Homo sapiens: one gene and its partners. The protein of the gene in region 2 binds, or shares a complex with, the protein of the main gene of each other region. Each region holds a gene or a part of one and is shown on either strand. Other genes may lie near its edges.

Region 1 (7,964 bases), on a different chromosome or scaffold from region 2:
GCAAGACCCTGTCTCTTAAAAAAAAAAAAAAAATTGGCCGGGCTTGGTGGCTCACACGTGTAATCCCAGCACTTTGGGAGGCCGAGGTGGGCGGATCATCTGAGGTCAGGAGTTCAAGACCATCCTGGCCAACATAGTGAAACCCCGTCTCTACTAAAAATACAAAAATTTGCCGGGAGTGGTGGCATGCGCCTGTAATCCCGGCTACTTGGGAGGCTGAGGCAGGAGAATCACTTGATCCTGGGAGGCAGAGGTTGCAGTGAGCGGAGATTGCGCCATTGCATTCCAGCCTGGCAACAGAGCGAGACTCCGCCTCAAAAAAAAAATCTGTATATCAAAGAGTTTGTGTTATGCTTATTCCTTGACACCAATAAAATGAAGATCTAAAGTAAAATGTGCATTGTTTTGTATCTTTTATTGAGTGTCTGTGATATAAGAATCCCTGGGAGTACAGCAGTCTATAAAATAAGCTAAGTTATATATGTATTGTATTGGGATCATGTGAAGAATTTTGTATATGTATAGGGATGATGTTAGCCAGCTATAGTAGGCAAAGTAATTTGGATAAACATTAGCTGGGTTGAGAGAAATGTTAAGTAATGGACTTAGGGTGCATTTTAAAATCCCTGAAACATAATGCCTGAGATCTGAAAGACAGCTAAGGGTCTGAAAATCACCTTTTAACCACTCATAATGAGTCTGTATGACATGTAGCATTCTAAGAATTAATCTTTCATCTATTATAATCACATTTAGTTGAATACATAATTTTATTACTTTACGTTCTTAAGTGATATTTAACCAATAAAAATAGTAGAGGAAATTCTGGAAATTCAAAATAGCTAGGCTTTTCCTGGGACGTATATAAACTACTATATACTGCTAGCTTTTTTAGATGTTGATAAAATCACAGGGAAGACATAGAGCAGGTTTTAAACTAAAATTGTTAAAAGCCAGGCATGGTGACTCAGACCTGTAATTCCAGCACTTTGGGAGGCCAAGGTGGGAGGATCACTTGAGGCCAACAGTTCAAGACGAGCCTGGGCAACATAGCAAGGCCTTGTTTCATCAGAAAATTTAAAAAATTATCTGGGGTTGGTGGCACACACCTATAATCCCAGCTACTTGGGAGGCCAAGACAGAAGGATCTCTTGAGCTCAGGAATTCGAGGCTGCAGTGAGCCATGATTGCACCACTGCACTCCAGTCTGGGCAACAAAGTGAGACTCTTGTCTCTAAAAAAAAAAATTAATAAAATAAAAAAATAAAATTGTTAAAGCAATCTAGTTTGTCAAAGAGTCGTCTTAATTAGAAACATGTAGGTTTTTATTGTATAATTAAATGTATTAAAATATTTAAGTTGTTTCAAAGTAATTATTTGCTTTTTATCATGTACCTAATAACTGAGGCCATTAATTCAACCCACAGTTGAAATATTTTCCCCTTGAGTTACCACCTTAGCAAGAAAATTTTCTGAAAGAATTAACATGTTTCAAGCATAAAAAGCAGAAAATAAAAGTTAAAACTGTGTTTTTTTCCTAATTTGCATTTATGTGTTTAATACATTAATATTGTTTCTAAAGACCAATTGAAAGCATGATTTTACTTCATTACGTATTGATAGGCTTGTAATCTGATTTATTAATTCCATTAAGGTAGAAAAGGTTTATTGGTTTATTTGCCTCAAAATTCATATTAATAAAACAAAATGTATCAGAGAAGCTATAGTCATGATAAGCAGCAAATATAAAGTAGAAACAGAAGCACTTGTATTTATTGAGAACATAACCAAATTTTGCAAACATTTCTCTTGATGGAATGCTCATGTGAAAGAACATACAGATTTGGTATAACTTAGTCACAATTGATTATTTTCTGCTCCTTATGCAAAGGAATATTTGTTACATGTGGTGTATGCAAATCCTTTACAGATATACAGAAATACAGAACAAATATTTTGATAACTAGATGTACTATGTCCTTCCTACCAGTTGTGATTTTTTTGTCAATGGGTGGTTCGCCTAACAACATTGAGCAGTTTGGCATGACCTCACTAATGATTCTCTCTGACCATTGTAGCGGTTTGCTGCGGTAATCATGAGGATAAGAGAGCCACGAACCACGGCACTGATTTTCAGTTCTGGGAAAATGGTGTGCACAGGAGCCAAGAGGTAGCCGTAAGAAATTCATTCTTCTGGTCTATGGGTTATGAATGAAAAGGTGATATCTCATTGTTTTTAGGTTATTAGGTTAGCACTTTAACATGTTATTATTGCTTTCTTATAAAAACCATTTTAATATGATTCTATTAATTATTTTTATTTATTTATTTATTATTTGATTCTATTAATGTTAGATAGCAGTGATTTCATTTTCTTAAAAATTAGATATGGGCAGGCGTGGTGTCTCACCAAGGCGGGCAAATCACTTGAGGCCAGGAGTTCGAGACCAGCCTGACCAACATGGTGAAACTCCATCTCTACTAAAAATACAAAAATTAGCCAGGCGTGGTAGTGGATGTCTGTAGTCCCAGCTACTTGGGAGGCTGAAGCACGAGAATCGCTTAAATCCGGGAGGTGGAGGTTGCAGTGAGCTGAGATCATGCTACTGTACTCCAGCATGGGAGACAGAACAAGACACTTTCTCCAGAAAAAAGAAAAAAATTAGGTAAGATGTAATACAACATCAGAACTATTAATAAAATTCCCTTTATGTGAAAAATGTTGTAAATAACACAAATACATCTTGAAATGGAAGAAAAAATTGATCAAGAATTAAAACACTTCTAAGCTAATGGTGTAAGGGCTTTGCAGACCTTATTGGGCCTGGCAGCGTGACAGCATCACATGTGTTGGCTGCAGAAACCTGCCTTCTCACTGGAACTAGCTTTCATTAATAGTGTTTGAGTTGTGCAGATCTTAAGGAATGCACCCTTGTTATAAAATGTCATTGCCTATATTCTCCATCTGAAGTGATCCTGTCTGAAGGTTAGTACTCTGCGGCCCTGACTGTTCTAAACAGAGCTTATATACTTGGTAGAAGTCAAAAACTAGGGGGAAAATTAGTGACATTAGCTTCATAAATGAACTGAACAAATAAACTAAAACTTTTTAAATGAAAGAGTATTAAATGTACTTGGAGGTATCAACACATAGAAGGGGGCTGTGGATATTTTTGCTTATTCTGAAGTTTGAAATTGTCTTTCAGTGATGGGAATGCCATTGGTGTGGACATTCTGGCTCCTGATCTCCGAGGTTTTTCAGAATGCAGGACAAGGATGTGTTCTTGCCTTTCACTTCCCCTTGGCCACAACATGCAGTAGTAACCTCTTTAATTAAGAGCGTTTTTGTTTGCTTGTTTTCCCCTGCATGGAACATCAGAAACTTTTGGTTTATCAAGGCAAGCTTTTCATGCAGCATTTAGCCTTTTTGTCCCAGAGCATCTGAAAACTGAATATTGTATATGTAGTTGGATGACTATTTCATCAAGACAAGAAACCACCAATACATTTACCTGAAATTTAAAAGCGTAGCATATATATATATGCTTGATTTTTGTTCTTCCTGATCCCCTGCACCTGATAGTCTCTTTATGGTAATATTTTCACATTCTTTTTTGTTGTTGTTGTTGTTTTTGAGATGGAGTCTCGCTCTGCGCCCAGGCTGGAGTGCAGTGGCATGATCTCGGCTCACTGCAAGCTCCGCCTCCTGGGTTCACGCCATTCTCTTGCCTCAGCCTCCCGAGTAGCAGAGACTACAGGTGCCCACCACCATGCCTGGCTAATTTTTGTATTTTTAGTAGAGATGGGGTTTCACTGTGTTAGCCAGGATGGTCTCAATCTCCTGACCTCATGATCCGCCTGCCTCAGCCTCCCAAAGTGTTGGGATTACAGGTGTGAGCCACCGTGCCCGACCTGCCTGCCTGCCTTTTTCTCTTTTATTTTTTCTTTTTTTCTCTTCTTTCTTTCTTTCCTTTTCTTTTTTTTTTTTTTTTTTTTTTTTTTTGGTGGAGTCACCTAGGCTGGAGTGCAGTGGCACAATCTTGGCTCACTGCAACCTCCACCTCCCAGGTTCAAGTGATTCTCCTGCCTCAGCCTCCCAAGTAGCTGGGATTGCAGGTGCCTGGCACCATGCCCAGCTAATTTTTGTATTTTTAGTAGAGATAGGGTTTCACCATGTTGACCAAGCTGGTCTCGAACTCTTGACCTCAGGTGAGCTATCCGCCTTGGCCTCCCAAAGTGCTTGGGATTAGAGGCGTGAGCCACCATGCCTGGCCCACATTCTGCTTTTCTTATGTAAGCTCTGAACTGCTAAGTCGTAGTTTATTCAACAAATGACATAGGAATGTCTATTCATGATGAGTCTTGGTATAAAAGAGGATAGAATTAGTGAATACATTGTTCAATAATAAATCTCATCAACATTTTCTGATCAAAATGAAGTTTGTTAGTTTTCCTCTCAGTAGAAATGCATGGGCTAAAATACAGAAATAGTGATGACTGATGATGGTGATAATTCACATCCATAAAATCTAGGGCTACAATAATTTGGCGGATTGAAAGGTCATTTTGGCAGGCCTACAGTTTTCTGTCAAGGATCCAGGAATACTTTATAAGGAATTGTGAATGCCTGTCAGTCTTTTCTCCTATTGCAAGAAGGCTGACCAGTTTACACTTTATTAGTTTACTGTTTTGGACTTTTTATAAGTTATTAGTCTAAATAAGTATTTTAGCTGGCTCTGAGTATGAATAACTCACTTTTTTCCTTTCCCTAGTGAAGAACAGTCCAGACTGGCAGCAAGAAAATATGCTAGAGTTGTACAGAAGTTGGGTTTTCCAGCTAAGTTCTTGGACTTCAAGATTCAGAATATGGTGGGGAGCTGTGATGTGAAGTTTCCTATAAGGTTAGAAGGCCTTGTGCTCACCCACCAACAATTTAGTAGGTAAGTCTGAAATGTATTATGATTGTTATTGGCAACAGTTCATTTATAATCTAAACATTGTTCAGAATAAAACACATGCAAAATATTCAGTATATGAGAACAGTTGACATGGTTATAGTTGTATGTATTCTTGCATTGTCTTCCTGATGTTCTCAGTCATATTTATCACCCTCACCAGCCTCTGCTTCCCTTATCACTTTGCGGTACCCATAACTCCCCTTTACTGGAATGAATTTGATTCTACTTCTGTATGTTTTATCGTTTTATTGCTGAATACACTTGGAATGCATGAATTGACCCTAACCTTGTATCAATTTTTTTTCCCAGTTTGGATCTTCTCTTTTAGTCAACATTGTGTCAGATCTACCAGCAAAGTGTGAAGTTGAGCGATAGGAACAACTTTCTAATTATCTTCCCTGCTACTTGCAGGTGAAGACTCACAGGCAGGCAGCCCTGCCCACCTCACTGCTTCATCTCATGGTCTTCTGGTGTCTGTTCACAGGCACATTAGTTCTGTGTGCCCCTGGGGCTCACTTGGTTCCTCCTGCCCTAGGCCTTTGCACTTGCCACTTTTATGCCTAGTATGCTCATTTCCCTTTTCACCTAGGAAGCTCCCACTTGAGTTCCATATGTCTACCCATTCCACTCTTCCTCAGAGAAGCCTGTCCTGAATTTTGTCTTAGGTCAGACACACAGAAACAGAGGCATCCTGTTTTCAGTCTCTCCGAACTGAGAAAAATGAGATTACTAGGCTTAGAAGAATATGTACCAGGCCTGGCCTGGTGGCTCACACCTGTAATCCCAGCATTTTGGGAGGCCGAGGCAGGCAGATCAGTTGAGTTCAGGAGTTCAAGACCAGCCTGGCCAACATGGTGAAACCTCGTCTTTACTAAAAATACAAAAATTAGCTGGACATGGTGGTGCATGCCTGTAATCCCAGTTACATGGGAGGCTGAGGCAGGACAATCATTCGAACCCAGGAGATGGAGGTTGCAGTGAGCCAAGATCGTGCCACTGTACTCCAGCCTGGGCGACACAGCAAGACTCCGTCTCAAAAAAAAAAAGAATATATACCAATAGTCCATTCAGTCAGACAGCTTAATCAGGTATAGGTTAATTCTCAGGCTAGTATATAAGTTTGATTAAATTTCCTGACCACAATTGTCAGCTAGAGAATATTTCAATTTAAGGAGGTAAGATATGATTAAAAGTTAAACTGTCAGTATTGGATCTTAGAAGTAAATGATTATTAGGACTGTAATAGTAATTATTAGGACTGTAAAAGTAAAGGATTATTATCTGCATTAGATATCATTATATCTAATGATATAGAGACTGCAGACATAACTACAGGGCTCTTTTTCTTAAATCAGAAAATCCAGATTCAATAGAAATAGGGTAAAGTGATAGGAGGACAAATAGCCTTCCATCCAGTGGTTATCAACTGACGACTACAAGTCGGCCTCACTTGCTTTAATTATTCTATTCTATCCTTTGATGCTGCTTGAAGAACTGTGTTTTACCTCTTGACTAGTTTGTTTATTCAGTATTTTTCCTTGTACAGGTCCTCATTTTATCTAAAAGCACACAAAGCTCTTGATTTCTAAACTTTTTGCAATTTTCCTTCTAGTTATGAGCCAGAGTTATTTCCTGGTTTAATCTACAGAATGATCAAACCCAGAATTGTTCTCCTTATTTTTGTTTCTGGAAAAGTTGTATTAACAGGTAAGTTGTAACAGGAAGTAGTATCTGAAAGTTTGTAAGTGTTTTGAGTATGGCATTTTCTCAGTGCTGAAAAGAAATTTCAGTGTTCGGACAGTGGGCTAGCTTCTTGTACAAAGGCCTCCCACCCAAAGTCTGATGAGAAACGTGCCCACTAAAGGCACAGTGAGAGCAGGGAAGTCTGACCACAGCTCTGCAAGCAGACTTCCATTTACAGTGAGGAGGTGAGCATTGCATTGAACAAAAGATGGCGTTTTCACTTGGAATTAGTTATCTGAAGCTTTAGGATTCCTCAGCAATATGATTATGAGACAAGAAAGGAAGATTCAGAAATGAGTCTAGTTGAAGGCAGCAATTCAGAGAAGAAGATTCAGTTGTTATCATTGCCGTCCTGCTTGGTTTATGGCCTGGTTCAGGACCAAGGAGAGAAGTGTGAATACATGCCTCTTGAGCTATAGAATGAGACGCTGGAGTCACTAAGATGATTTTTTAAAAGTATTGTTTTATAAACAAAAATAAGATTGTGACAAGGGATTCCACTATTAATGTTTTCATGCCTGTGCCTTAATCTGACTGGGTATGGTGAGAATTGTGCTTGCAGCTTTAAGGTAAGAATTTTACCATCTTAATATGTTAAGAAGTGCCATTTCAGTCTCTCATCTCTACTCCAACTTGTCTTCTTAGGTGCTAAAGTCAGAGCAGAAATTTATGAAGCATTTGAAAACATCTACCCTATTCTAAAGGGATTCAGGAAGACGACGTAATGGCTCTCATGTACCCTTGCCTCCCCCACCCCCTTCTTTTTTTTTTTTTAAACAAATCAGTTTGTTTTGGTACCTTTAAATGGTGGTGTTGTGAGAAGATGGATGTTGAGTTGCAGGGTGTGGCACCAGGTGATGCCCTTCTGTAAGTGCCCACCGCGGGATGCCGGGAAGGGGCATTATTTGTGCACTGAGAACACCGCGCAGCGTGACTGTGAGTTGCTCATACCGTGCTGCTATCTGGGCAGCGCTGCCCATTTATTTATATGTAGATTTTAAACACTGCTGTTGACAAGTTGGTTTGAGGGAGAAAACTTTAAGTGTTAAAGCCACCTCTATAATTGATTGGACTTTTTAATTTTAATGTTTTTCCCCATGAACCACAGTTTTTATATTTCTACCAGAAAAGTAAAAATCTTTTTTAAAAGTGTTGTTTTTCTAATTTATAACTCCTAGGGGTTATTTCTGTGCCAGACACATTCCACCTCTCCAGTATTGCAGGACAGAATATATGTGTTAATGAAAATGAATGGCTGTACAT
Region 2 (7,816 bases):
ACCCAGTACCTGGGGCACTCCAGCCCCAAATGCCTCCCCCCTACTCTTCATCTCGTCTGTACCCAGGTGAGTGGCACACAACACCGCCCCGCCCCACCTCTGCTCTGTCTCAGATGGTCACTAGAGGCTGCTGCTTACCAGCGGCTCTGCTGGGCCCAGACAACCACCCAGCAAACCAAACTCAACCCTGGATGAATCTGTGGCCCAAACACGCAGTGGATCCCACAGTCGGTGCTAACAGGCAGGTGGGGAAGCTCTCCCAGGGCCTCCCCTTAGTAGAGCTTCGAGGTGCAGCCAGGGGTGGAGCAGGGGAGGAGGGGCCTCGGGGTGGGGCTTCCGTGCAGAGCTGGAGAGTTTCTGCTGTGCAGGAGGCGGGGGCTCTGAGGAAGCAGGTCTGTCCTCCACCCGCCCTCCCGGGGACATTCGTAGGCGTGCCTCGAGCACAGGCTCCCGGGTCAGGAGAGTGGGGGTGGCTGCGAGAAGGCCAGGCAGGTTTCTGCTGGCAAGGCTCCCCCACACCTCTTCTGAGCACCCCTTTCCCACTTGTTCTGTCTGTCCACCGGACTGTCGGTCAGAATTGGTGAAGGAAGCGGCACCTGTTCAGGGCTGGCAGGTGAAGTCTGAGAGGCACGTGGAGGCTGATGGGAGATGCTGCTGCCCCTCAGGGCTCTGCACTCACCTGGAGAGCCACATGGGGCCTGGAGGGCCACTACACAGCTCAGCTCCCAAGTTCGGCCACATCCCCCTTCCTTCTCGGGCCCCAGTTCTCTCTCTACCTAGTGGACGAGCGCCTTCCCCTGGTGCCGATGCTGAAGTGGAACCATGGCCTCCCCTCCCCGCTCCTGCTGGCCCGACTGCTGCCTCCGCCCCGGCCCAGCTGCGTGCAGCCCCTGCTCCTCGGAGGCCAGGGTGGGCAGCTGCAGCTGCTGCACCTGGCAGGTGAGGGTCCAGGCCAGGGTGGGCGGCGTGTGGGAGATGGGGCGGTCGGGGCCTGGACAGGGCCTCAGCTGTCTGTCCTTCCTCAGGAGAAGGGGCGTCGGTGCCCCGCCTGGCAGGCCCCCCCCAGTCTCTTCCTTCCAGGATCGACTCCCTCCCTGCATTTCCTCTGCTGGAGCCTAAGATCCAGTGGCGGCTGCAGGAGCGCCTGAAAGCACCGACCATAGGTGTGCTGGGTGGGGGAGTGAGCTTGGGGGGCGCAGTGGAAAACATCCCCTCCCCCCGCTAGGCCCTGGAGGTCATTGTCATTCCCGTCACCAGGTCTGGCTGCCGTCGTCCCGCCCTTGCCCTCAGCGCCCACACCAGGCCTGGTGCTCTTCCAGCTCTCGGCGGCGGGAGATGTCTTCTACCAGCAGCTCCGCCCCCAGGTGGACTCCAGCCTCCGCAGAGATGCTGGGCCTCCTGGCGACACCCAACCTGACTGCCATGCCCCCACAGCTTCCTGGACCTCCCAGGACACTGCCGGCTGCAGCCAGTGGCTGAAGGCCCTGCTAAAAGTGCCCCTGGCTCCTCCTGTGTGGACAGCACCCACCTTCACCCACCGCCAGATGCTGGGCAGCACAGAGCTGCGGAGGGAGGAAGAGGAAGGGCAGCGGCTGGGTGTGCTCCGCAAGGCCATGGCCCGAGGGCAGCTCCTGCTGCAGAGAGACCTGGGCTCCCTCCCTGCGGCAGAGCCACCCCCTGCACCCGAGTCAGGCCTAGAGGACAAGCTCAGTGAGCGCCTGGGGGAAGCCTGGGCAGGCCGAGGGGCTGCCTGGTGGGAGAGGCAGCAGGGCAGGACCTCGGAGCCCGGGAGACAGACCAGGCGGCCCAAGCGCCGGACCCAGCTGTCCAGCAGCTTTTCGCTCAGTGGCCATGTGGATCCCTCAGAGGACACCAGCTCCCCTCATAGCCCTGAGTGGCCACCTGCTGATGCTCTGCCCCTGCCCCCCACGACCCCGCCCTCCCAGGAGTTGACTCCGGATGCATGCGCCCAGGGCGTCCCATCAGAGCAGCGGCAGATGCTCCGTGACTACATGGCCAAGCTACCACCCCAGAGGGACACCCCAGGCTGTGCCACCACACCTCCCCACTCCCAGGCCTCCAGCGTCCGGGCCACTCGCTCCCAGCAGCACACACCCGTCCTCTCTAGCTCTCAGCCCCTCCGGAAGAAGCCTCGAATGGGCTTCTGAGGACACAAGGTGGGCTGCCCTCAAGCCCCAGAGAGCCCCTCATCCTTCCTCTGGGACCAGATGTGCCTTCCACAGTTGAAACTTGAGAAGCAGAGCTCGCCACCTTCTGGAGGCCACTGTGATGATGAGCCAAGCAATTTGGAGCCAAGTTGAAGGGACAGGGCAACAAAATACAGTAGTAGTTTCTTTTGTATTTTGTATATTCGCCTGAAGATCATCCCGCAAGGCAGGCTGGAGGTGCCGGTGGGCCTGTGTTGCTGGGATTTTAGTCTGTGCTGGGAGGCAGGGCTCCGCTGCGCCTCAGCTGTGGGGGCCTCAGGCAGGTCCCTCAGTTCTCACGCCTTCCTGTCCAGTGGAATGGGGGCCAGGAGTGCTGGCTCCTCGTGTTTGGTGAGGGTGGAGTGAGGCCCCTGCAGAGCTGCTGATGAGGTGGGCACAGCGGCCGTTGGCAGCTGCTGTTGTGGGTTGCTTTGTCAATCTCTGCCCCGGTCTGATGTTTCCTACAGGGAGATGCCTTGGATCCAGGTTCAGGGACTAAATACACTTGGCAGCTGAAGATGAATTGGAATGGTCACGTTTTTTAGGCTGGACAGCGTCCCGCCACAGCTACTACCTGACACTGAGCTCATGCAGAGAGATGATGGCTGATGTTCCTTCTCCCTTGGGACATGGGTCTGGCACCTGTGGGCTGTCGATAGTGCCCTCTGAGCAGAGGGTCACGGTCATGTCAGTTTGGGGGAATTCTCTGTTGTGCCTCACAGACTCCCCCCTTTCTTTCCTCCCTCCCCTTCTCATTTTGATGTCTAAAGCATCAAGTCCCTCTTCCTCGGAGTTTCTCTAGCTGCAGTGGAAGATTCTGTTTTCCTGTGGGGAAAATGCTCACTTGAGATTTTGCAGGGACCCGGGTCTGTCTGGTTTCTGATGACATAGTAAGAGAAAGGTCTTTTTTCAGGTTGGCTGGTGAAAGGAATTGCATGTGACTCACACAAACAGGAGCTAGCCCAATCATACACTGACTCGCGTGGGTGTTAAAATGTTTATCATGCCTAAGGGAGACATTTATGATTAAACCATTTATGCTACATATAACTGGGGAAAACTATGATGCTTTCGGTGCTGGGAATGCAGTGAGGTCCCACGTGGGCAGAGCTTGGCTGGGCTGGGCAACTCCGACACACGTCTCTGGGGGTGTGGCGGCGCTCTCAGTCGGCACTGTGGAAGGAAGGGTGACCTGTGCTTTCTCCCTGTCACTGTGACTGCAAGGACAGGGGGGCAGCCTTGGGGTTCAGTCCAGGCCAAATTCAGTGTCCTCAACTGGGCGTGGTGGCTCATACCTGTAATCCCAGCACTTTGGGAGGCCGAGGCAAACAGATCACCTGAGGTCAGGAGTTCGAGACCAGCCTGGTCAACATGGTGAAACCCCATCTCTACTAAAAATACAAAGATTAGCTGGGCGTGGTGGCAGGCCCCTATAATACCAGCTACTGGGGAGGCTGAGGCAGGAAAATCCCTTGACGGGTGCCTGTAATCCCAGCTACTTCAGAGGCGGAGGCAGGAGAATTGCTTGAACCTAGGAGGCAGAGGTTGCAGTGAGCCAAGATCACATGACTGCATTCCAGCCTAGGCCACAGTGCGAGACTGTCTCAAACAAAACAAACAAAAACAAATTATTCAACGTCCTCCAGGCCTGCCCCCGCCCGAGGCTGCACGGGCTCCAGCTCAGACTGCACTTTTCTGTGCTGGTTCCTAGAGTGGAAGAGAAGGCCACTCAGTGTTCCCGGGAAATGCACTCAGGCCACTCCCTGCTTCCTGCCTGCAAGTCTGGAGTCAGCCAGGCAGCTGTCTTCAGGAAAAAGCCTGGCCACCGATGCGTGCTGGATGAGAGTAGCACGGTCTGGGCTCCACACAGCCCCCAATTTGGGAGTGCACCTGAAGGCAGATGCTGAATGAAAAAACAGTCCCAGCTTGCTTGTTCTCAGCACTAACCGGCTGCTCCCCAAAACCGCATCTGCCAGGCACATGTACCAGCCTGCAGTATGAGGGGAGGCCCCGGTACATTCAGCATGTTTTTCTGGGTCTTCTGCAGCCAGGCCTCTGGCTGCCGTCCCTGCCTGGTGCCCCTTTGCCCCTTTGCCTTCCCTGCCTTGAAGGCCACTAGGACTGGCCTGTGATTCACCCGGGCCTGGGTCACTGTGAAGCAGCCACGCCCTTGTGTGGCTGTCACCTCGCTTGCCCCACACTCCCCAGCAGTGGTGTTGGTGGTCCCCTCCAAAAGCCCTGGTCTAGAAAGGCTGAGGCCAGGGATGGTGAGGAGGGGGTGGAAATGCACGGTCATTAGGCCCCCGCCCCAGGAGATCTGCATGACCACAGGGGGATTGTGACCCCCACACACAGTCAGACTCGGCTGCCCAAGAGGAGGCTGGCTCGGTGGCTTCCTGGCCCAGGCTGGCTACCAGCAAGTGGCAGCTTCAGACCCGTGAACTCAGGAATGGGACCTTCAGAGGATCTGTGTGGTCTGTCCTGGGTGACCCCTCCAGCAACATGAAAGCTCAGGGTAAGGCTGAGTGACTGCCCTGCCCCACCCATCCCAGGCCGGGGAGCCAACATTGTCTCCACTGTGCTCTCGGCCCCACGCTCTTACCCGGAGAAGAGGCTGCAAGGAAGTCGCTGTCCCTGTCTCCACTGGAAGTGAGTGGTGCAGCATCTCTTTGGCAGGTGGGGGGCATCAGTAGCTGGCCAGAGGGGTCCTCGTCGCTGAGCTCCTGGATCAGGGGTCTTGGGGACTTGGTGTCTTGTTTTCGGATTTCCAAGTCCCTCTTAGCTTCTTTTTTAAAGATGTCTGTGAAGGGCACCCGAGCCGCCTTTGAGGTGTCTTTAGAGACTGCAAATATATTTGACAGAGTGTCTGTGGGGAGGTTTTCCAGCACAGGGAGTGACGTGTAGTCCAGTTCAGGGTCACTGTCATCACTCAAGCTCGAGATGACCTCAATCTTCGGAAAGCACATATTCTATTTACAGAAGAAAAGGTGTCTGAAAGTTTCTGTTTTCACAACAGAATCGCTCTACAATGCACCATGCCAGTTCTGCTTTTTCACCCAATGTCACAAAGTATTCTGTTGCCACATCCAAGAAAGGCCCAAGGGAACACAGGACTCTGAAAGTTAGGCCTGGGGGTGGCCACTCCCTGGGCACAGCTCATGTCTATGCCCTTCTCTCTGCCCTCTGCTCCCCCAGCCACTGGCTATTCCTCACCCTCCTGGTACCTGAGAGGGCGCACCCCTGAGCCCTGGGCTCTGCTTGGCATGCCCCTGAACCCCGTTTCCTTCACAGACTCTCTGGGACTTAGCTCCTTGGACAGCAGGCCCCCCACAGTAACTGTGTCTGTTTTCTTTGCTGCTGAGCTCGTGCTCAGAGATGATGGCTGATGCCTCCTTCTCCCTCAGGGTACGGGTCTGGCACGTGTGGGCTCCTGGTAATGCCAGTAATGGCCTCTGGGTGGAGTAGGGTCACGTCACTCTGAGAGAATTCCCCATTGTGCCTCACAGACTCACCCCTTTCTTTCCCCTCTCCTGTTTTCATTTCCTTCCCCTATATTCAGACAGACATTCATAGGATGGACATAGAAATACATCTTAATGACAGAAAGTACTTTCAGCTAACTATGCACTGTACTCAGCTGTTACAAACCAGCAATAGATTTTCAAGTGGTTCATCATAAAATCTTAAAGAAATTGAACAAGAACAAATGGCATTTCCTTCAGCAAGGTGAAAATATGGGGGATGTGGGCTGGGTGCGGTGGCTCACGCCTGTAATCCCAGCACTTTGGGAGGCTGAGGCGGGTGGATCACTTGAGGTCAGGAGTTCGAGACCAGCCTGGCCAACATGGAGAAACCCCATCTCTACTAAAAATACAAAAATTAGCTGGGCGTGGTGGCTCATGCCTGTAATCCCAGCTACTTGGGAGGCTGAGACAGGAGAATTGCTTGAACCCAGGAGGTGGAGGTTGCAGTGAGCCAAGAACACACTATTGCACTGCAGCCTGGGTGACAGAGCCAGACTCTGCCTGAAAAGAAAAGAAAAGAAAAAGAATATGGGGGAATTCAATGCTTTATGCACAGGGAACATTTTACTTTCAAGTTTAGGAGAGAAACGGTAAACGACAAGAACGAAGGTGGAATTAAGCTGCCTGTGGGAAAATGGTTTCTAATGACCTTAACCTGGTCTTCCAGAGATTTGCCTGTTTCATCATCATCTTCCAAGTCAGGTAGGTCCTGAAAGAGCAAGTGAGCCGCACATCACCAGGGAGGTACACGCACTGTCAACGTTCTGATAGGCACGATAAAGGCAAACACGCAGTCAACCCAGCCTTAGTTACAGTTACTCAAATCACTCAGGTGACTCGCCTGCCTGTTCCCCACCAAAAGGAACTCTAGATACACACAAAGCAAGCGTTGCCACCTCAGGTGTCTGGATCTAATAAATGAAAGGGAACTTGCAAGGTGTGACGTGTTTAAAGAATTTCCACATCTTTTTTCTGCTTTTTTATTAAGAGACACAGCCAGTTCATCTTGGGGGAAATAATGGGACCCAAACCAAATGCACCTCTGTACAAACTAGTCCGAAAACTCTATGTGGTATAAAAGTAATATATTTTGTACCTCCCCAAAACTTGTAGGACTTTTTTGTTTTGTATTGTGGGTGTTTGTTCGGTATCTTTGTCCATAACAACCAGTGCGTGGTTGGGGAGGCAGCATAGTGTGTGGTTGGATGCATGAACTGGAGCCACGGTGCCTAGGTTGTTACTCCCCCACCACCATTTTCTAGCTGTCTGGCTTTGGGCAAGTTGCCTAACCTCTCTGTTTCTCATTTTCCTCATCTGGGAAATTGGGATGATAATAGTATGTACTGCTTAGAGTTGTAGGAAGGGTTACATCAATCAATACAAGTCATGCTTAGAATGGTGTCACCCATATAATAAGAAACCAATTAACATTAGCTATTAGTGTTGTAGTTATCTATATGGTCAGTTCTCAAATGTGAGAGATAAATTGCCCAATTATGTCCCTTTCTTTTTCTTTTTTTTGAGACAGAGTCTCGCTGTGTTGCCCAGGCTGGAGTGCAGTGGTGAGATCTTGGCTCACTGCAACCTCCGCCTCCCAGGTTCAAGCAGTTCTCCTGCCTCAGCCTCCCGAGTAGCTGGGATTATAGGCACCTGCCACCACGCCCAGCTAATTTTATTTTTTTTATTTTTTATGTTTTTGTATTTTTAGTAGAGATGGGGTTTCACCATGTTGGCCAGGCTGGTCTCAAACTCCTGACTTCATGTGATCCACCCACCTTGGCCTCCCAAAGTGCTGGGATTACAGGTGTAAGCCTCCACACCTGGCCTTTGTTTCTTTTTTTTACATAGCTCCAGAAAACTAGAAACCCACTGTGAATTCTGACCGTGATCACTTTAACTCTTTTTTTCTTTTTTGAGATGGAGTCTCGCTCTGTCGCCCAGGTTGGAGTGCAGTGGCGTGATCTCGGCTCACTGCAAGCTCCACCTCCCAGGTTCCTGCCATTCTCCTGCCTCAGCCTCCCAAGTAGCTGGGACTACAGGTGCCCATCACCACACCTGGCTAATTTTTTTCTATTTTTAGTAGAG
Region 3 (7,964 bases), on a different chromosome or scaffold from region 2:
ATGAGCAAAAAAAATGGGTTTGTTTTATTTTTGAGACAGGGTCTTGCTCTGTCGCTCAGGCTGCAGTGCAGTGGCATGATCATGGCTCACTGCAACCTCAACCTCCCAGATTCAAGCAGTCCTCCCACCTCAGCCTCCCGAGTAGCTGACAGGTGCGTGCCATCATGCTTGGCTAATTTTTAAATTTTTTTTTTGTAGAGACAGGGTCTCCCTGTGTTGCCTAGGCTGGTCTCGAACTCCTGGGCTCAAGCAATCCTCTCGCCTTGGCCTCCCAAAGTGCTGGAATTACAGGCCTAAGCCACTGTGCCCAGCAGAAATGGTTTCTTGAGATGGGATCTCAAGAAATGAGAAGATGCTGTAAACATTGTTGAAATGACAATAAAGGATTTAGATTATTTCATAAACTTAGTTGATAAAACAGCGGCAGGGTTTGAGGGGACTGACTGCAACTTGGAAATAATCTCCTCTGTGGGTAAAATGCTATCAAACAGCATCACATGCTACAGAGAAATCTTTTGTGAAAGGAAGATGCAATTGGTGTCGCAAACTTGTTTTATTTTAAGAAATTGTCACAGGCCAGGCGTGGTGGCTCACGCCTGTAATCCCAGCACTTTGGGAGGCAGAGGCGGGCAGATCACGAGGTCAGGAGATCGAGACCATCCTGGCTAACACGGTGAAACCCCGTCTCTATAAAAAATACAAAAAAATTAGCCGGGCGTGGTGGCGGGCGCCTGTAGTCCCAGCTACTCGGGAGGCTGAGGCAGGAGAATGGCGTGAACCCGGGAGGCAGAGCTTACAGTGAGCCGAGATCACGCCACTGCACTCCAGCCTGGGTGACAGAGCAAGACTCCATTTCAAAAAAAAAAAGAAAAAAAAAAAAGAAAGAAATTGTCACAAGCTGGCCGGGTGCAGTCACTCACACCTGTAATCCCAGCACTTTGGGAGGCCGAGGCAGGCAGATCACCTGAGGTCGAGAGTTCGACACCAACCTGACCAACATGGAAAAACCCCGTCGCTACTAAAAATACAAAAAAAATTATCCGGGCATGATGGTGCATGCCTGTGGTCCCGGCTACTCGCAAGGCTGAGGCAGGAGAATCACTTGAACCTGGGAGGTGGAGGTTGCGGTGAGCCGAGATCGCGCCACTGCACTCCAGCCTGGGCAAGAGCGAAACTCCGTCGCAAAAAAAAAAAAAAAAAGAAAAAAAAGAAATTGTCACAAGCCATCCTAACCTTCAGCAACCACCGCCCAGATCAGTCAGCAGCCAGCAACACTGAGGCAAGACCTTCCACCAGCAAAAAGATTACAACTTACTGAAGGGTCAGATGATTTAATATTTTTTAGCAATAAAGTATTCTTAAAATTGAAATATTTACAGCATAGTGTAAACATAACTTTCATATGCACTGTGGGAAACCGAGAAATTCATGTGGCTCACTTTATTGCAGCGCTCTGGAACCAAACCTGCAATATCTCCGGGGTAAGCCTGAAGGCTTTTGTATTGCTTGTGGAAGTTTAAATTGCTTCAGCAAGGACACACAGGAAAGAAGTAGCAAGGGGACAGGGGCCTATGGGAGGGAGCATTTCACTGTATGTCTTAATATTTTTATTTCTAAGCCACCTAAATGCATTAAATGCATTAACCCCCAAAATGTAATTACAGTTAATCCTCATTATGTGCACATTTGCCTACTTGCTACATTATCTCTGTAACCACAAAATTAATACTGGGGATGCTTTCAAAGTCATTTCAGAACATGCAGCAAAAAACTTTGAGTCCCCCGATGCAGATGCTCCCCGCAGCTGAAGTCAAACAAGACGATGCCATGCCTTCTTGTCAGCTCATACTATAAACAAGTGCCCCTTGCCCAGTCTGTTCACTGGCACGTTTTCAGCATTTTTGTGCTTTTTGTTGGTGTGATTTTTTGTTGGAAGCTGTTTAAATAACAGCTTCCAGGCTTCGCATGGTGGCTCACACCTGCAATCCCAGCACTTTGGGAGGCCAAGGCAGAAGGAATGCTTGAGGCCAGGAGTTCGAGACCAGCCTGGATAACATAGCAAGACCCCATCTCTACAAAACAAACAAACAAACAAACAAACAGAAAAAACAAATTGCCTCCGAGTGCAGCACTGAAGTGCTGCCTAGTGTTCATAAATGCAAAAAGGTGTGATGTGCCTAACAGAAAAACATGTGTGTTAGATAAGCCTATAATTACACTGCTGTTGGCTGAGAATTCAATGTTACCACGTGAACAATATATATTTTTAAAGGGTGTCTTTCAACAGAAACACACAAAAAACAAGGCTACATATTGATCGGCTAACAAAAATGTTGTAACCCGAGGCTTGAAGGAACCTTACCCTGTATTTCCCCTAGGCACAATGGTTCAATATTCACTGGTAACTTTAAAGATGAGTACTACAAATAATGAGAATCAACTGAAATTAAGTAAAAAAAAAAAAGAACACTCTTCCATGAACCATAAATACATTCTGAAGACATCAAGTGTTTGTTAGAGTGTCAGAAGTTACCTGCCTCGTGTTTCATCTGTCACCACAATATGAACATCTCTATCGAAAGTTAGGTAGCGATTCCGTCTTCTTCTCCAGTGCTAGAGCAAAAAACCCTTCCCCATCTCTTTTTCTGCAGTTGGATATACTTTCTACCTCTCCACTTTCTCTTTTCTCCTTTCTACCCTCTCCTGGACTTTGACATTTTGAATCACGAGTAACAAAATTCTTTTCCTCGTAGAGGATAAACCTTCAAATTACGCTGATTACATCTTCTGAATCTTGAGTATTTCTTGATTACTTTCTGTAGGGCCCTCTTCTTACAGGCCACTCTCTCTCTCTTTTTTTTTTTTAGATGGAGTCTCACTCTGTCACCCAGGCTGGAGTGCAGTGGTGCAATCTTGGTTCCCTGCAACCTCCACCTCCTGGATTCAAGTGATTCTACTGCCTCAGCTTCCTGAGTAGCTGGGACCACAGGCACATGCCACCACACCCAGCTAATTTTTTTGTGTGTGTATATTTAGTAGAGATGGGGTTTCACCATGTTGGCCAGGTTGGTCTTAAACTCCTGACCGCAAGTCATCTGCACACCTCGGCTTCCCAAAGTGCTGGGATTACAGGCATGGGCCACCACGCCCGGCCAGGCCACTCTAATTGGGAGAAGTACTTTTAAGCAGAACTTTCTTGAGTCAATGCCCTTCTAGTTGCCTGAGAACACTTATCATCTGATCCCCATGAACTGGAAGTTTTACTGCACACATATTAATCCCACTGAGGACCCTGTCCACAGACCACCAAAGACAGAACATTTCTGTCTCCAAATCATAAATGGAGAACCCTGGGACTAGAAGACTGCAGAGAAGGCTGACATCTTTAGGTATGAAAGTAAATTCAAACCAAGTATCAAGCCAAGCAGAGACAGAGACAGCAGCTTTAAGGTTATCAGGAAAAAAGGTTATATATCTGATGATATCAGGGTAGACTGGGAAACCTCCTTTTAAACTGTCCTCCTGCAAACCAACACTGTTTTCTATTTAGAAATGCAAAGATCCGCCAAGAGATGCAAAAAGAAATGACCCAAAAAACTACTCAATAGCTTCTATACTTCCAATATTAATGACTAGTCTATTTCGAATGCTTTGGCATCATTCTTATTCATTTATTTTTCATTTTGGAGATAGGATCTCACTTTCTCACCCAGTCTAAAGTGCAGCAGCGGCACAATCACAGCTCACTGCAGCCTCAAATCCCTGGGCTCAAGCGATCCTCACTTCCATTATCTTTTTTTTTTTCCCAAAGAAAACAAAGTACCTATAACACTTAGTTTCTCCTGTTTTCACTTTCAAAGAATGCATTCGGCCTTCTACAGAGGAGCCAAGAAAGCAGCCCAACTCCTGCACAGAAGAGTAAAAAAGAATTCTTACAGAAAATCTCTGCTGAATCTCCAAAAGCAGCACAACTTAACAGGTTAAAAACCACGTAACCTTGGCCGGGCGCGGTGGCTCACAACTGTAATCCCAGCACTTTGGGAGGCCGAGGCAGGCACATCACGAGGTCAGGAGATCGAGACCATCCTGGCTAACACGGTGAAACCCTGTCTCTACTAAAAATACAAAAAATTAGCCGGGTGTGGTGGCGGGCGCCTGTAGTTCCAGCTACTCGGGAGGCTGAGGCAGGAGAATGGCGTGAACCTAGGAGGCAGAGCTTGCAGTGAGCCAAGATCGCGCCACTGCACTCCAGCCTGGGCGACATAGCAACACTCCATCTCAAAACAAACAAACAAAAAGAACACAAAAAAACCCACATAACCAAACAAGATGTTTATCACTGTACACTACATACCCAAGTTGCACAGTAAAGCTGGAATAGATGCCGTATACACAAACTGTGTGACAACCTCACATACGGCAGTTAGGTGGTTCATCAGGCCACAGGGCTCCCCGTCTGGGGTATGCACGGGACAAAGGAAGCCCCAGGACTCTGGCAGCAGCCTGCGTACTGTGGTGGTCCTCATCTTGGCAAAATCAGCCCCTCTGTGCACGCAGCGGAAATGGGAGAGGTAGCGTATGAAGTTCAGCTTGTCAGCCACAACACAAAGTCCAGAATCTTGTAGGAGGCCAAGACCTTAATAAAACAAAAGTCATTCAAAAATGGGCCAATCTTTTGAAAAATGGAAATTGTTGAGGCTTTATGACGACAAAACCTCAGAGCACTCTACAGATCATAGAATGAATTATTACAACATTTATTCTCCTAGCTCTGATGAGTGTAAAGAGTTCACAAAAAAATATGTAAAATAATCCCCAGATTTCACAAACTGTATTAGCCCCAACTAGTTCCCTGTCTCCTCTATGACCTCCTTTGTGGGTGAACATTAAATGAGTTAATAAAATAGCAAGTAGTTAAATTCATCTGAGAGAGTCAGATAATAGACAAGCAAGAAAGCAGGCTAATGAAAGAATCGGCAACAGTAACATGGGTTTAAAAAAAAAAAAAAAAGGCGGGGCACAGTGGTTCATGCTATAATCCCAGCACTTTGGGAGGCCAAGGTGGGTGGTTCACCAGAGCTCAAGAGTTCCAGACCAGCCTCAGCAGCATAGCGAAACCCCATCTCTACAAAAAATACAAAAATTAGCCAGGTGTTGTGGCTTATGCCTGTAGTCACAGCTACTCGTGGGGCTGACGTCGGAGGATCACCTGAGCCTGGGAAGTCAAGGCTGCAGTGAGCCATGATCCTGCCACTGCACTTTAGACTGGGTGACAGAGTGAGACCCTGACTCAAAAAAGAAAAAAAAAAAATTCTGAATTCCCAATTACCACTTTTTAAGTTTCTAGGGTCATTCTCTTTTTTGTTGAGACAGGGTCTCACTCTGTCACCAGGCTGGAGTACAGTGGTGCAATCACAGCTCACTGCAGCCTTGACCTCCTAGGATCAAGTGACCCTCCTACCTTGGTCTCCCAAAGTGTTGGGATTACAGGCATGAGCCACCACACCTGGCCTCTCAGGTCACTCTGAGGCAAGGCAAATGGTTTAGAGATGGGCATGTACAGCAACCCATCTAGAGTTCCTGTTAGGTAAGCCTTCCTCAGAGGTCTAAGTGGCCTTTCATTTTCTAGAAGGAAGCAGAGAAAATGTATTCAGTTATCTGAATTAAATTTTAGCTATACAGACACCTTGTCTAAAGCCCTTTAGACCAATAGTTGTCGAAGTCATAGTTATGAGAAATTTACTTTTTTCGTGGGGTTTGCTTTTAAAAAGAACTCTCAGGGACAGGCAAATCTACACTAAGCAACTAATTTGAAAAACATAACTAAAACGATCGATTTAATTTTACCTGTTTTAGAACGCAGATTCCCAGTAGCAAAAAGGTATTCAAATGGTTTTGTAAGGTCTATGCCCATTGTAAAAATCCTCATCAAATTGTCAGTGTTCATGGAAACACTGGTCTTCTGAGCCTTCTTATCAAAAGCTATTTTAATAGACACTAACCAACCTTCCAGTTTTTCCTGAAATAAGGAAAAAAAATTAATATAAAATAGTATGTGAGCCAGGTGTGGTGGCTCACATCTATAATCCCAGGATTGGGTGGATCGCTTGAGACCAAGAGTTCAACATGAGACTGGGCAAAATGGTGAAACAAAACCCTGTCTACAAAAAAATTAGCCAGAGGGGGTGGGGTGAGGGGGTGGGGCGTGCCTGTAGTTCCAGCTACTTGGGAGGCTGAGGCGGAAGGATCGCTTGAGTCCAGGAGCCTAAGGCTTCAGTGAGCCATGACTGTGCCACTGCACTCCAGCCTGGGAAACAGGGCAAGACCCTATTCTCAATAAAATAAAATAGTATGTGTTTCAATTATCACAAACTTCATATTTATTCCCATGTAATCTGTACGATCTTTAACAAACGTCTACTAACATACATCAAAACCAAAAACCTGAAAGAGGGCTTTTCAGGTGCAGAAAGGATAGCTCTTCAATGTGATGCCCTCCTTCACCCATTATACTTGTTATACATCTAAAACCAATCACACGAACTACACAGTCCATCTTAATCTATGCTGCCAACACTAAGTGAAAAGCCTAAAGCAGCCTGCAATTCCAAAATTACAGCTAGACTGGAGGAATGAGTTCTGGTATTCTGCAGCAATGTAGGTTGAATACAGTTAACTATATTTGTTGTATATTTTTTCACTGCAGCCTCAACCTCCTGGGTTCAAGGGATTCTCCTGCCTTAACCTCCTAAGTAGGTGGGACCATAGGTATGTGCCACCATGCCTGGCTAATTTTTAAATTTTTTTTGTAGAGATGGGGGTCTCACTTTGTTGCCTAGGCTGGTCTCAAACTCCTGGGCTCAAGCAATCCTCTTGCCTCAGCTTCCAAAGTGCTGGGATTACAGGCGTGAGCCACCACACCCAGCCTTATTGTATATTTTCAAAAAGCTAGAAGAGGGGATTTCGAATGTTCACAACACAAAAAAATGATACATGTTTGAGGTGATGAATGTGTTAATTACTCTGATTTGATCATTATACATTATTGACATATATGGAAAAATCACTGTATACCCGATAAATATGTACAGTTATTACATGTCAACTAAAAATAAAAGAAAAAAAGACTATACACCATCAGCGCTTTCTATGGGTGGTTCAGAAACCACTGAAAATACCTAAGAGAATGTTTGAGATAGGTTCTCTCCTATATTTGATATTTGGAAGAAAACGTGGAAGATGTACATAGGTCACTCATGTATACCTTTTCCAGCAGGCCCCTGAGTCAACACATTAGCCATTGACTATTGATAATCCACCTCTTCAAACTATCAGTGTTTGAACACTCACACTTGGAAGACCTAACTATTCTTCCAGAAGACAGCACTGGAAGTGACACATTTCATTTCTGCATATTCTCTGGCACTGACACTGCATTTAATATCACTGTGGTGCAGTAATATTAAATTTTTAGTACTTGGAAGGAATAAATTTTGGAGAGGTGTGGGAAGAAGGAATATATTTTATAAAATGTTACAATGAATCTCACAACTGACTACACACTAGTAGGATTTGTAAGTACACTGCTAAAAATCTGTAATGTACAGATAAGGGAATTACCAGGGAGTGAAGGAAGCTGTTAGCTCACCCAACAAGGGTATTAATGTAGGTTTGGACTTTATCAAGTGAAACTAGAGAATCAAGTTTGAGTAGAAGAGCCTGGCATCACTGCTCCACCTCTGCTGGTTGCTGTTTAGATTCCTTTCTTGAGCCTACATCTTCCTGTGTCATAAATGTTTTTATCAGGTGTACACTGAACACTTCATCTTCACAGTCAAGATGGAATAAGAAGCCCTGGATCTTGACAACTGATTTGTTTGTGTTCTTCTCCCTTTTTTTTCATAACTATGTCTACTTCCTTATTTGGGTTTAAAATCAAAACCAGAAAGGCTAACTGAAGTGTT
Region 4 (7,964 bases), about 69 Mb from region 2:
GTAAATGGCAGGTATTCTCCCTTTACAGACAGCACTAAAGCACAGGAAAGTCATTTTCCCAAGATCACATGGTTAGTGGCAGGATTAGAAAACTGAAGCCAGGTTTGGCTGACCCTAAAGTTTGAGTTTATATAGATTAAACTCTGCCTGAAGCCTTGAGACTTAATTGACCAGTATTGTTTTGCTAATTTCTAAGAGTTACTTATAATTCAAATCTGTCAGTTGAAACTTATTAGATTAGTGTATTTTAGTTGAAGAGAGTCTCCAAGAACAGTGTTTATAAGTCATTGTAAATTGTTCTGTTTATGTTTATGAATAATTCTTATGGTTTTGTGGGTCACTTCCTCTAAACCGGGGTCTCTGAACCCTGCACGATTGCCATTTGGGCTGCATCATCCTTCATCGTCGGGGGCTGTCCTCTGCACTGTAGGATGTTTAACAGCCTCCACCTACTAGCTGCCAACAGCAGTCCCCGACCACCCCCAGCTGTGACAACTAAAAGTGTCTCCAGATACTGCCAGGTGTCCTCTGCGGGGGTCGCAGTCTCCTTGGGTTAACAGCCACAGCTCTAAACTGAAAGTTGTATGTGTTGCATTATATATGTTTACCTACATCCTACATGCTTCTAAAAGATGTTGTATGAACTAGTAGGATGAGGTTTTATCACAAGGTAAGTAAATACAAGCTCTGCTTTTCTTTGTATAAATTAATGCCAGGAATCTGGATTAAATATCTTGTTTTTGTAAGCTGTGACATCCCATTTAGGTAATTTTTATTGAAATACGTATCAAAGAAACTCCTAAGAAAATATACTTAAGTACAAGTTGGTCAGCTTGCCTCTTAAAATAAATGTGATGTCTTTATTTTACTCATGTAGAAAAGAATTATATTCATTAAGTCTAAGAAAGTGGTTTCTGTCTAAATTTGCCGTCCGTTGAGGTAGAAGGCAAATTTGGAGTTTTCTTGTTTAGAAAAAAAACTACAGATGACTACTGTGCACCTGAAAACAGCACTCAGCTTCACTAACAAGACATGCAAGCTAGAATCAAATTGCTGTTTTGTTTTGTTGCCTGTCATGATTGTTAGCTGAAACCAAATCACAAGGTCTTTTCTCCCTCTGTATTATCTCAGCATACACTGAGCTTGCAAACATATGAATTTCACATTGTCGTGGAATCTTACAGCCTGCTACTTCCTAAGTTTTCTTTAGAGAAGCTGCCTTGGTGACCAATGAATGTGGTTAGCCTAGTGATACTCTTCTGGGCCATATACTGTGTGACTATCTGCATGGACCTTTATTTAAAGCATTTCTGCAAATAATTTTTTAAAGTTTTTTTTAAATGTGTGATAATTTGTGCTTTTAAAAGTATCTTACACTTTTCACTTATTTGTACCTTTAAAAAAATCTTTTTTTTTTTTAAACCAAAGGTTTGCAGTATCTTCAGAGTCTGAATTTTGAGCGGATAGTGATGAGCCAGCTAAATCCCCTGAAGATTTGCCTGCCCTCAGTGGTTAACTTTTTTGCTGCAATCACAAAGTAAGTTATTTACGCTTTCTTGATGGGAGTTATTTAAAATATTTTTATTTATGTTTATCTAGTATTGTAAGAGTGTTAAATTTCTATGAAATTAGTAACATTATAAAAGGCCAGGCGTGGTGGCTGACACCTGTAATCTCAACATTTTGGGAGGCTGAGGTGGGAGGATTGCTTGAGGCCAGGAGTTAAAAGACCAGCCTGAGCAACATAGTGAGACCCTATCTCTACAAAAAAATTTTAAAAATTAGCTGGGTGTGGTTGCCTGTGCCTGTAGTCCCAACTACTCAGGAGGCTGAGGTAGGAGGATCACTTGAGCCCAGGAAGTCAAGGATGCAGTGAGCCCTGATTGTACCACTGCACTCCAGTCTGGGCTCCAGAATGAGACCCTGTCTCTTAAACAAACAAAAACAACCCAGTCCTTGCAGGAAATACTGTGATACAGCTATTGTTTTTATACTTTGATGGCGTTGGAAATTACTACTACTTCTTATCCAAAGGGCAGCACTTTGAAATAAGTATGGCAACCAGTAAGCTGAGAGGGGCAAAGCCATAGATGCTTATTAGAGTGACTCCTGTAATAGTAATAGAAATAAACTGGACATGAGGCAAATGTTGACCTGTAAGAGATTGGTTTAGAGAGTTCTGTTCTCTCAGGTCTGGTAGCTATGGCTAATCCATAGCCTTTCCTCTGTGCCAGGCAGTTCTAAGCACTTTACATAGAACTCATTTGATCCTCTAGGATGAAACCCTGTTTATCAACAGGGAGGTGGAGGTACAGAGAGGTGAAATCACTTGCCTAAAGTCATAGAGCTAGACTGGCAGCACAGATTTAAATGTAGTCTGGCTCCTTTGTAAGCTTTCACTAAGTTATTCTGCTTTATGGAGAAAGCGAATTGGAGAATTGAATATTCAATGAGGATATTTAGGCCGGATCATAGCTTAAAATCTTCAACAGATAAGAGCCAACAGCTTGCTGAGCTCCGTCAGCCTCTTTAGTTCTCCTTTGCTAGGCGTCTGGTTCAAGGTGTCCTCTCTTCTGAGTCTCAGTGATAGTAAAGGATTAGGAAAAGGCATAAAGAGACCAATAAGCAACGGCAGTGAGTGGGTGGAGGCTTCAGCACGTTGGTTAAGATGGTGAGCAGCTCAAAGAGTGAGGATGGATGAAGCAAAGCAGAGGCCGCTGCCCCTGGTATGTTCTCGGGGTGGGGACAGAGGACTGCATTTGTGAACCATCTGGTCCAGGGGCTCTCGATTTGGGGTTGGCATGCGCATTGGAGGCACAGAGTGTGATGCGATGTGAGGCTAAGAGCAGGGGATTGAAATAAAAGTCTCTGCCTAGGTACAGATATGGTAAATAAAGGCGTGTACCATTCTGTAGCTGTTGCTTTTGCCTGCTTGATGCTTTTGAGATTGAACCATATTGACACAAAGCTTTATTTTGATTTTAACTGCTGTGTTATGTTCTGGGAATCTTTTTTATTGAGTCTTTGTTGGGATTTCATCTGTTAGTTTTTGTCTTTTTTTTTTTTTTTATTTGAGACAAGGTCTTGCTCTGTCACCCAGGCTGGAGTACAGTGGCGTGATCTTAGCTCACTACAACCACCACCTCCGAGGCTCATGCAGTTCTCCTGCCTCAGCCTCCCGAATAGCTGGGACTACAGGCGCCTGCCACCACGCCCAGCTAATTTTTGTATTTTTAGTAGAGATGGGGTTTCATCATGTTGACCAGGCTGGTCTCAAACTCCTGAGCTCAAGTGAACCGCCTGCCTCAACCTCCCAAAGTGCTGGGATTACAGGTGTGAGCCACCGTGCCCAGCCGGCTGTGTTAGTGTTTTAGTGCTCAGGAACATTCTTGTGTGTGGGCACATGCTTCCTTGTCACACACCCGGAAGTGCGGTCAGCTGCGGGGTTGTAGGAGATGCAGATCTTCAACTTTACCTGATAGTGCAAACCACCCTCCAGTGTGGTTTTGCTGATGTGTCCTCCACCAGGAGGAGGGGTCAAGTGCTGTGAGCCTTGGCTAACAGGACAGAAATCAAAGTATGTGGCTTGAAGTTGCCATGGTGACCTGAGAACCTGAGATGGAGAGTGACAGAAGTGAGATCTGAGTCCTCATCTTGGAGAAGCTGTCCAATAGATAATTTTTCAAGTTGCTCAATCATTTAGAGACAACTACTGGAAAAATTAAAAACATAATTGTCTTTATTTTATGTTTTCTTCTATGCATTTAACTGTTCTCACTCGGCATGCCTAGTCCTTTCTGTGCCTGTTTTTGAGGTCATGACTTAGTCAACCCCGTGTCCCTCCTTCAGTAAAGGCTTATTTCTTTTTCAGTGCTTCTTCAGCAAGTCTCTTCACCAACCACTATTTCCTCCTGAGTAACTCCTGAATCCCTTTACCACCAACCTTCTAATTCTTTTGCAAACAGTAAAAATAAAGACACCTATAGTTACGTAATCTAAGAGTTTTGCCTTGCAAACATTTATTTTTAATGAATAGTATCTATTACTCATTAAAATATAATGAATAATATCTATTACTCATTAAAATATAAGCCCAGTTTCACATTCTGAGTGATAGCCACGTTTTCTTTCTCCTTAGCAAACTTGCAAATAGAAGACCCATAGAACGGTACCCTAAAAGTGTTACTTTCTGCTTTATATTGTTATTTTTACTAGCACTTGTTATATTCAGCAATTTCTCTGTGGTAGGTACAGTTGTCACACGCAGCTCACATCTGCACCGAGTCACTCCAGCATGTTAATGCCTCTGTCTGTGTTGTTTTTTTGTTCCACAGTAAGTACCAGCTCGTCTTCTGCTACACCATCATTGAGAGGAACAATCGCCAGATGCTGCCAGTCATTAGGAGTACCGCTGGAGGAGACTCAGTGCAGATCTGCACAAACCCGCTGGACACCTTCTTCCCCTTTGATCCCTGTGTGCTGAAGAGGTAGGTACTTTTAAACATTGACGCTGGAGGAGGTGGATTTTTTTTTTTTTTTTGAGACGGAGTCTCACTCTGTCGCCCAGGCTGGAGTGCGGTGGTGTGATCTCGGCTTACCGCAAGCTCCGCCTCCCGGGTTCACACCATTCTCCTGACTCAGCCTCCCGAGTAGCTGGGACTACAGGCACCCACTGCCACGCCTGGCTAATTTTTTGTATTTTTAGTAGAGACGGGGTTTGACTGTGTTAGCCGGGATGTTCTCGATCTCCTGACCTCGTGATCCGCCCGCCTCGGCCTCCCAAAGTGCTGGGATTACAGGCGTGAGCCACCGCGCCCGGCCAGGAGGTGGATTTAAACGTGATACATGTTTGCTTTTCCCAAAATTGGGATTTAGGGCTCTTCACCAGAAGTGGCCCTTCCTCGCTGTTGATGAGCATCTCGTGGTCTCCCTGCGTATATTTCACCAGATGCAAAGTAGAGGATGCCTAGCAGGACTTGCCGAGTGGCGCAGGCACCCCAGAGTGGGTAGATCTTTGCCTCACTAGGAGCCAGACTGACATCAAGGGTTTTTTGTTTTTTGTTTTTCTTTAAACTGTTATTTAAACATGTAAGGTTAATGGGGATAATGGTGCCAGGATAGGGGAGGGTGCTGTCTTTTCTTGCTTCATAATTTTCTGCCAAGTGTCTTGTTCCTTCCTCTAGAGACCACATACCATTCTGTTGCACAGGATAAACGAAAAACAAACGATTGGCTGGGCGTAATGGCTCATGCCTGTAATCCCAGCACTTTGGGAGGCTGAGGCGGGCGGATCACTTGAAGTCAGGAGTTCAAGACCAGCCTAGCCAAGATGGTGAAACGCTGTCTTTACTAAAAATACAAAAATTAGCTGGGTGTGGTGGTGGCGCCTGTAATTCCAGCTACTCGGGAGGCTGAGGCAGGAGAATCTCTTGAACCCGGGAGGTGGAGGTTGCAGTGAGCCGAGATTGCACCAATGCACTCCAGCCTGGGCGAGAGAGTGAGACTCTGTCTCAGAAAAACAAAACAAAAAAAAAACAAAAAGCGATTTATCTAGATGAGTTGTTCTAGAAAACCACTGGGCCAGCCTTAACTTGGCACTTGTATAAGGAAGCAGGATTTTTGCTTATTATGGTTTCTAAAATAACTAGCAGCATCATGACCATCTGGGATTGTCTGGTCCCTGAAGTCTTGGTTGACTGAAACCAGATTAGTTGTTTTTCCTAGACTTACTTTTCAGCAAATTACTACAGAAATATAAAAAAGAGAGTTCCAGAATATTACGGTTTCATTTCCATTTGGATATACTGTATCTAACTGACTTGTGAGTCTTTGTAAAGTTTAGAAACAATTTCACATGAAAATGGAAAGATGAAAAACGGTAGTTCAATACTCCATCGACATGAGTGAATGAACTCTTATACAGAAAGAGCCACATTAGTTACAGCATTTACATAGAGGGTTGTTTTTTTGTTTTGTTTTTTTCTTTTTTTTTTTTTTTTTTGAGACAGAGTCTTGCTCTGTCTCCCAGGCTGGAGTGCAGTGGCGCGATCTCGGCTCGCTGCAAGCTCCGTCTCCCAGGTTCAGGCCATTCTGCCTCAGCCTCCCGAGTAGCTGGGACTACAGGTGTCCGCCACCACACCCGGCTAATTTTTTGTATTTTTAGTAGAGATGGGGTTTCACCGTGTTAGCCAGGATGGTCTCGATCTCCTGACCTCATGATCTGCCCACCTCAGCCTCCCAAAGTGCTGGGATTACAGGCGTGAGCCACTGCACCCAGCCAGGTTTTTTTTAAATGTAATTATTTAAGCTGTAGTTTTCACTTCTTGGTTTTGGGTAATAGATCTTGTGAGAAAAGATCCAAACCAATTTTGACTTCTGCCGAAGTATTTAACTTGACTTTGAAATGTGATCTTTGTTGACAGGTCAAAGAAATTCATTGATCCTATTTATCAGGTGTGGGAAGACATGAGTGCTGAAGAGCTACAGGAGTTCAAGAAACCCATGAAAAAGGTCAGTTTGTGATTGATTGAGCACACTCTCGGAATCTCCTTTCTGGTTCCAGGTCACAGTGAGATAGTAAGTGGCAAGTCGTTCGTGCGTGTAATCCCCGCACTTTAGGGGGTCAAGGCCAGAGGATTGCTGGAGACCAGCCTGGGCAACACAGTGACACCCTGTTTCTACAAAAATTTTTTTAATTAGCTGGGCGTGGTGGTGCACACCTGTAATCCCAGCTCCTCTGGAAGCTGAGGTGGGAGGTCAAGGCTGCAGTGAGCTGTAAATGCAGCATGGCACTTCATCCTGGGCAACAGAGCAAGACCCTGTTTTCTTTAAAAAAGCACACCAAAACCGTGTCTTACTCATTCTGCCTTTATAAAATTCCAGGCCCAGGTTTTGTTGTTATTTAAAGAGTCTATGGCTTTTTTGGATAAATTGCTTAAACCAGACACTTCACATACTGACATGTGAGAAGCGAAGGTTAATTACAAATTAGCTGAATGAATTTAGATCTTTGCCACTTGCGCATTCTTACCAAGTAACAATCTCCAGTTGACTCATGTTGAAATTGCCCCAGCAGTTTACATTAGTTTTATAGATCTTCATGAATGGGTGGTGAAGACGCAGGTTGCAACATACCCTCCAGGTCACATGAGGTGGAGCTGAGACAGTTACAGTTAGAGAGGAAAGTTAGAATCCAGTAATAAAGAATTTCGCTGCTCTGTTGCTTGGGAGCACATTTGTTTTCTCATTAAAAGCAGCTTCAAGATGGCTTTTTTGTTGTTGTTTTTAATAAGTAATCATTGGAAAGCCCCTTTCATCTTTTTCTTTATGTTTCATTTGTTGAGGGGCGTGTAATTCATTCACATTGTGTTAGGTACAAGAGTTCCTAACACTGGGCAAGAATGACTCGTCATGTTTCCTGTCCCCATTGAGCTTCAAATCTGTTTGCAAGTCAGACTTGAAACAAATGATTACAATGTGTGATGAGCAGTTATGTGGGTATGTTGGTAAGAAGGAAGTGCTTATCAGAGGGAGCTTTTGTTCTGTTCTGTTTTTCTAGAGACATGGTCTCGCTATGTTGCCCAGGCTGGATTCGGAACTCTTGAGCTCAAGCAGTCCTCCCACCTCCACCTCCTGAGTAGCTGGGACTACAGGCGTGTGCCACTACACTGGCTTTCTTTTGAAATTAAGATATTTTCTTCACCATCTTTACAAACGTTAACACCTTCCTGAGGAAGGAATTGTTGAAAGCTTTTCAGTCAGCACTGGTGATGTTACTGATGATTTCTGATGTTTCTGCAGGACATAGTGGAAGATGAAGATGATGACTTTCTGAAAGGCGAAGTGCCCCAGAATGATACCGTGATTGGGATCACACCAAGCTCCTTTGACACGCATTTCCGAAGTCCTTCAAGTAGTGTGGGCTCCCCACCCGTGTTGTACATGCAACCCAGTCCCCTCTGACG

Evidence for each region.
Region 1: TAF1C (region 2) and TBP share a complex: the UniProt entries of both Homo sapiens proteins name them as parts of the transcription factor SL1/TIF-IB complex.
Region 3: TAF1C (region 2) and POLR1B share a complex: the UniProt entries of both Homo sapiens proteins name them as parts of the pol I pre-initiation complex.
Region 4: TAF1C (region 2) and RRN3 share a complex: the UniProt entries of both Homo sapiens proteins name them as parts of the pol I pre-initiation complex.

The regions. Positions count from the first base shown.
Region 1 is NC_000006.12:170,564,840-170,572,803, forward strand, and holds part of TBP (TATA-box-binding protein), read left to right. Parts: intron 1-2,078; coding exon 2,079-2,170; intron 2,171-4,772; coding exon 4,773-4,940; intron 4,941-6,570; coding exon 6,571-6,665; intron 6,666-7,346; coding exon 7,347-7,426; 3' UTR 7,427-7,964. UniProt on the Homo sapiens protein: The TFIID basal transcription factor complex plays a major role in the initiation of RNA polymerase II (Pol II)-dependent transcription.
Region 2 is NC_000016.10:84,173,293-84,181,108, reverse strand, and holds the end of TAF1C (TATA box-binding protein-associated factor RNA polymerase I subunit C), read left to right. Parts: coding exon 1-66; intron 67-113; exon of another isoform or gene 114-241; intron 242-764; coding exon 765-939; intron 940-1,025; coding exon 1,026-1,163; intron 1,164-1,257; coding exon 1,258-2,168; 3' UTR 2,169-3,254; downstream 3,255-7,816. Other genes in the region: DNAAF1 (dynein axonemal assembly factor 1), read right to left, coding at 3,268-3,380, 3,503-3,595, 4,810-5,176, 6,387-6,440. UniProt on the Homo sapiens protein: Component of the transcription factor SL1/TIF-IB complex, which is involved in the assembly of the PIC (pre-initiation complex) during RNA polymerase I-dependent transcription.
Region 3 is NC_000002.12:112,555,965-112,563,928, reverse strand, and holds part of POLR1B (DNA-directed RNA polymerase I subunit RPA2), read right to left. Parts: intron 6,020-7,964; coding exon 5,848-6,019; intron 4,637-5,847; coding exon 4,355-4,636; intron 1-4,354. UniProt on the Homo sapiens protein: Catalytic core component of RNA polymerase I (Pol I), a DNA-dependent RNA polymerase which synthesizes ribosomal RNA precursors using the four ribonucleoside triphosphates as substrates.
Region 4 is NC_000016.10:15,061,742-15,069,705, reverse strand, and holds part of RRN3 (RNA polymerase I-specific transcription initiation factor RRN3), read left to right. Parts: intron 1-1,428; coding exon 1,429-1,537; intron 1,538-4,334; coding exon 4,335-4,487; intron 4,488-6,422; coding exon 6,423-6,510; intron 6,511-7,800; coding exon 7,801-7,962; 3' UTR 7,963-7,964. UniProt on the Homo sapiens protein: Required for efficient transcription initiation by RNA polymerase I (Pol I). Required for the formation of the competent pre-initiation complex (PIC).